2 separate regions of the Homo sapiens genome follow, and region 1 is linked to region 2. Evidence: fine-mapped expression QTL. A gene starts in region 2. The other region holds a variant in brackets. All regions are shown on one strand. Distances are from middle to middle.

Evidence for each region. PIP is the estimated chance that this variant, and not a neighbour inherited with it, causes the effect.
Region 1: its variant is fine-mapped to the expression of PLD2 in whole blood (TOPMed, PIP above 0.99).

Annotation. Positions count from the first base shown.
Region 1 is chr17:4,857,488-4,860,393 of GRCh38, reverse strand. All of the region lies in intron 1 of MINK1 (misshapen like kinase 1), which reads right to left. Among named protein-coding and RNA genes, the nearest start is that of MINK1, 26 kb to the right of the region's middle. RefSeq lists a silencer at 246-540. The variant G/A (reference allele first, on the strand shown) is at 1,455.
Region 2 is chr17:4,805,710-4,808,615 of GRCh38, reverse strand. It overlaps PLD2 (phospholipase D2), which reads right to left and starts at 1,464. Exons shown (of 25, transcript NM_002663.5): 1 at 1,391-1,464; 2 at 735-844; 3 at 502-632; 4 at 200-342. The coding sequence starts at 843. It also overlaps a transcript of C17orf114 not described here. RefSeq lists an enhancer at 1-728 and a silencer at 1,124-1,913.

The DNA.
Region 1 (2,906 bases), 52 kb before region 2:
CCTAGGAAGCGTGAGCCAAGGCTGTGGGGCCAGGAAAAGGAGAGAAGGTGAAACCCCCGTCAGTCCCTCACAATCAGCACGTGGAAATCTAGAAATGCAGGAGAGGCCTGGACTCATGGTGGAATCCAGAATGAAAGAGGTGGACGACTGAATGAGCAGAAGGAGGCAAGCACCAGAGGCTTGGGGGTCACATTTCTTGGAAGTGGCCTGGAGCTGGCAGATGAGAACTCTGGCTACCCGTCCTCATTCCACTAACAGTAGCTCCTCTAACGACATGCCCCTTCCCTCTGTACCCCGCTCCGCATGCGGCAAGTAGTTCCCGGACGCGACCCTTCCCCCTGTACCCCGCTCCGCATGGGGCCAGTAGTTCCCGGACGCGCCCCTTCCCTCTGTACCCCGCTCCGCATGCGGCAAGTAGTTCCCGGACGCGCCCCTTCCCTCTGTACCCGGCTCCGCATGCGGAAAGTAGTTCCTACGGTGTTGGTTTTGCATGTAGATGAAACCCTTTGAGGGGTAAAGGTTTTTTTTTTAAGTACTTTAGCAAATGCAAACTGTTATTATCAATATTAGCCAGCATCTTTTTTTTTTTTTTTTTTTTTTTTTTTGAGATGGAGTTTCGCTCTTGTCACCCAGGCTGGAGTGCAATGGCAAAATCTAGGCTCACTGCAACCTCCGCCTCCCAAGTTCAAGCGATTCTCCTGCCTCAGCCTCCCAGGTAGCTGGGATTACAGGCGTGTGCAACCACACCCAGCTAATTTTTGTATTTTTAGTAGAGACAGGGTTTCACCATGTTGGCCAGGCTGGTCTCGAACTCCTGACCTCATGTGATCCATCCGCCTCAGCCTCCCAAAGTGCTGGGATTACGTAGCCAGTGTCTTTCTTAAGTGCCTGTCAAATAATGCTCCTGGTTTATAAGTGCCCCTGGCTCTACCTTCTGGGTGCTCAGACACCAACACAGAGAGAACAGAATTAACATCCTGAGAAGTTACATATGCTAAAATATAAAGAGTAAGATTGTGAGGAAACTGCAGGGGAAGCAGGTAGGTTAGGAAAAGGTATCCTCACTTTTCTGCTGACCGATGAGTCATAATTCTTGAATTTCGGTGCTGGAAAGGTCCATTAAGCATTCCAGGAGATTCTAGGGAGCTTCCAGAATGGTAGAAGAACTGGAACCATAAAGCCTGGGGAAGGGATGGAAGTCCTTGGGAAAGAAGCACTAAACAGCCCAGTGGAGACAAGGAAGGACTGGTCTCTCCTGTGCTTCGAGCCCAGCAATGATTATTCACTCAGATATGCCCCGGCAGGTCCTGCTGCTAGAGCCAGTGCTGTTCCCAGACCCAGGCAAGGTGCCATCCTACCCCTGACAGGAAACAGGGCAGGAGGTGGGGCTGCCCCGGGTGCCTGGTGTTGGGAGGGGCCGGGGGGAATCCCGGGTGTTGGGAGGACAAGGCAGA[G/A]TCAGCTAGCTGTGAGGCTAGGGGAGAAGACCTCTCTAGTCTGGGAGAGACCCCTCCTTTCCTAGCTCCTTGTACTTCCAAAAAGGCAGGCTTCCTGCTGTTACTAACCATACCAGGACTGACTATACAGCAGCCAGAAAGATTCTGAGAAACCTGTGATAGAGAAAAACAGATGCGGAAGCGGGAGAAGAGAATTTCATAGGACACTAGGGAAAGAGAATGGGAACTTGTGGTCTAAAGAGGGAACCAAGTCTGGCCAACATGGTGAAACCCCATCTCTATTACAAATACAAAAATTAGCTGGGCATGGTAGTGCATGCCTGTAATCCCAGCTACTCAGGAGGGTAAGGCATGAGAATCACTTGAGACTGGGAGGCGGAGGTTGCAGTGAGCCGAGACTGCACCACTGCACTCCAGCCTGGGCAACAGAGCAAGACCTCGTCTCAAAAAAAAAAAAAAATTAAATTTAAATTAAAAAAAAATAAACAGGGAACCAACAAGAGCTGGCAGAACAGAATAAAGTCTCAAGCCAAATAACTCCCTTGCCTTGGAAGAACAAGGCTGCCAGCGTCTTGGAGCCTCTGTTTATCGGGTACCAGTTCAAAGGACAGTGAGCCTGAGCTGGCCTGGGAGGCCCTCCCCCCTCCCAGATGAAAACAATAGGCCTGTTTTCCTGAGCTCTTCCTGTAATCCAGAAGGCCCACACAGAGAGGAAGAGGGGGGCAAAGGCAGTGGCTATACCCAGTGGGGGAGGGGATATTTAGCCTCCCATAAATTCATCAGCTCCCTTAAAGACACCCCAAAACACCAACAATCTAAGTGTTAAAATAGTGACTGCTATGCAAATGGAGCTTTAAAACCTATCCCTTAGCCCCAGTACCACCAGATTACTAACCCTAAACCCCATCTGTAGGAGATATTCTGAAGCCACCACAGGGGAAGGGATAAGGGCCTGAGAGACAAAGGACAGATGGGGTCTCCCCAACAATTTAAGTTAAGTTCCACAAGGATACAGTACTGGCAGAGATTTGGAAGTAGGGGCAAGTATTCTGACAGAAGGGTGGTGTCTTAGGCACCCTTCAATTAGGAGTAGCTAAAGGCTGTGTGTGTGTCTGTGTGTGTGCATAAGAAAAGAAATAGGAGGGTGTGTGTGTGGTAAGAAAGAGCATCTTGGCTGGGCGCGGTGGCTCACCCCTATAATCGCAGCACTTTGGGATGCCAAGGCTGGCGGATTGCCTGAGCTCAGGAGTTTGAGACCATACGGGGCAACATGGTGAAACCCCATCTCTACTAAAAATACAAAAAATTAGCTGGGCATGGTGGTGCGTGCCTATAGTTCCAGCTACTCGGGAGGCTGAGGCATGAGAATGGCTTGAGCCCTGGAGGCAGAGGTTGAAGTGAGCTGAGATCGCACCATTGCATTCCAGCTTGGGCTACAGAGTGACACTCCAT
Region 2 (2,906 bases):
TCCCGCCCAGCTGAGATGCTGGCACAGAACCATGGACAGGGAAAGCTGAGCAGGGAAAGTTTCCTGGTAACTGGGGTCAGGGGAGGCAGCACAGTGGCCAGAGTTGCAGGGAGGAAAGGTTGTGGCCCCGGGGTGAGACAGACAGAAAGGAGGGTGGGGAGCACCTGCCCTCTACAGGAAGCAGTCCGGTCGCCCTCACCGAGCCAGAGGGAGCAGACTCATCAAGACTTTGTGTCTCAGGAGGTCCCGATGCAGCTCCTGAAAATGACGGTATTTCTTCTTGGTTGTCCAGGAAAAGTCGCCGTGAGTCAAGCGGACAGAATACAGAGTGCAGGTTCCCACCTAGGGGTATGAGGAACTGAATGGATGTCCCCTGCGTGGGTCCCCGCCTCCCCACTCTGGCCAGCCCTCCTTTTGCCCCTTCCCTGGGGCCAGCCCAGCCACCTTGGATCCATTCCGGGCCGCCCTCCCTTTCCCCCTCCCTGGGGCCAGTCTGGCCACCTTGGATCCGCTGGTATATCTTTCGGTGCCCACCACCTGGGCTGTGACAGGGACCCCAGGTGCGAACACCAAGGGGTGCACTTTCAGAGACTGAAGCTCATAGATGGCCAGAAACGGGTGCATCCGGTCGGCTGGGAGGAAAGAAAGTCGAGGAGTGTAGACCACAACAGGCCCCAGCCCCCTGGCTCCCGAACGCCTCTCCTCCCTGAGGGCCATCCATCTTCCCTGTGTACCTGGGTCCTCTCCCTCCTTCAGGGTGTCCACCTCATCGGACTCCATCTGGAGCTGGCTGGAGTCCAGTTCGTCCCCAGTGGGGAAGAGGCTCTCAGGGGTCGCCGTCATCCTAGGAACATTGGGAAGCCTCAGGGAGGCGAGCTGTCCTGCAGAACCCGCCCCCCATCCTAACTCCCGCAGGTCCTCCATCTCTTCCAGATCCTCCTCTTCCCCCACGGCCTCCTGACCGCCCGCGGATGACGCCTGACCAGTTTGCAACGCCCCACCGACCCCTTCGAGCCCCCATCCCCTACCTTAGTCCTTCATCCACAATCCCAGTCCCGCCCCCCGCCCCCCGCCCCGTCCCGTAACCAGAGCCCCGGGGAACACCCAGCCAGGCCCGGAAGGCTCCGACCTGGGGCGGCGCAGCAGCTGCGCGGGGAAGCGGCCCTGGGTGGTCCGGAGAGCGCGCGGCTACGGGGCTCACGCCAGGCCAGGCGGGCCGGGGGCAGGGGTCCAGGCGGGAATGAGGAAGTTACGCGATCCCAGCCGGGGGTAGAAATCCCGAAATCTGAGCGTGCGACTGAGTCTGGAGGCCCCGCAGCCCGAGCCCGTTCCGTCCCCGCCCGATTTCCGAGACCCGGGACCCCCGCGCGCCCCTTCCCGGCCCCCTCACCCTGGCAGACGGAGCCAGCGCCCGCGGGGGTTCCGGAGCCAAGAGAGCAGACCGGAGCTGCAGCCGGAGCCCACGCCCCGGCCGAGGCGGGGCCGGCCGAGGCGGGGCCGGGGCTCAGGGCCTGCCCTCGGGGGCGGGGCGGCCCCCGGCCTCACCTCCGCGGGATTCTCGTCTGTCCTGTCCCGCCCCCGCTGCCCTCGGCCCGCCCCGCCGCCCAGTGCGCCACCGAGAGCCCCGGGCAGGGGGCCGCCCTGTGCCCTGCAGGGCCGCGGGGCCGCGTAGCTCTCTCGGTGCGGCGGGTAAGTGCTGCCCGGCGTCGGGGCGTCCCGCGCCGTCGGTCCCAGCGTGCCCGGCCGCTGCCTCCCGGGGCACCCCGCGCTGCGCGCATCCCTCGGGCTCGGCGCCCGCCCCGGGCCCCTCCAGCCGCGGGCGCTGCCTCGGCGCCCGGGGGACGCGCCTCCGCTGCGGGAGCTGCCGGTAGGTGCCCCGCTCCCGGACCCGCTGCGAGCCACATTTGGCCTAGCCCAGATAGCGTTTGTACCTGGAAGGAATGAGGGCGTAAAAGGCCTGAGGGGTGGTGGCTACAAACCCATTAGTGTATGAAAGCGGGCATTCTTTCATTCATTCACCAAACATTTATTGCGCGCTTACTCCGTGCCAGAAATTGAGAGTATGGTAGTAAATAAGATGGTTAGAGAGCCTGCTCAGCTGGAATTGGCAGTCTAGGGGGAAATAAAATTTTTTCGGGTATTAAAATACAAGATATTTCAATCTTTTTTAAAAAGCAGATTTATTTTTCTCTTTTGATATACATGTGGGTTTCTAGTTTTGCCCATTGTTTTAGCTCCTGTAAACATTCCTGTAAGTTTGCGTGGATAGTTTTCCTTTATCTTGGGTAACTAGGGAGTGGAGTTGTTCGATCATATCAGTGTGTGTTTAACTTATAAGAAACTGCCAAACGATTTTTTTCTAAATGGTTTTTCCATTCTAGATTTCCAAAATCAGTGTATGGTGGTTCCAGTTATTCCATGGCATGGCCAACGTTGGATATTGTCAGTCTTTAGCGTTGGCCATTTAATGGGTGTTGTGGGCACATCATTGCAATTTGATTTGCATTTGTCTGGAGATCAATGATATTGACCATGTTTCATGTGCTGATTGGCCATTTGTATGTCTTCTTTTATAAAGTGCCTATTCAGTCTTTTGCTATTTTTTATTTATTTTTATTTTTATTTTTATGAGACGGAGTCTCGCTCTTTTTTTTTCTTTTTTTGAGATGGAGTCTTGCTGTGTTGCCCAGGCTGGAGTGCAGTGGCGCGATCTCGGCTCACTGCAAGCTCCGCCTCCCAGGTTCACGCCATTCTCCTGCCTCAGCCTCCTGAGTAGCTGGGACTACAGGCGTCCGCCACCACGCCCAGCTAATTTTTTTTGTATTTTTAGTAGAAACGGGGTCTCACCGTGTTATCCAGGATGGTCTCGATCTCTTGACCTTGTGATCCGCCCTCCTCGGCCTTCC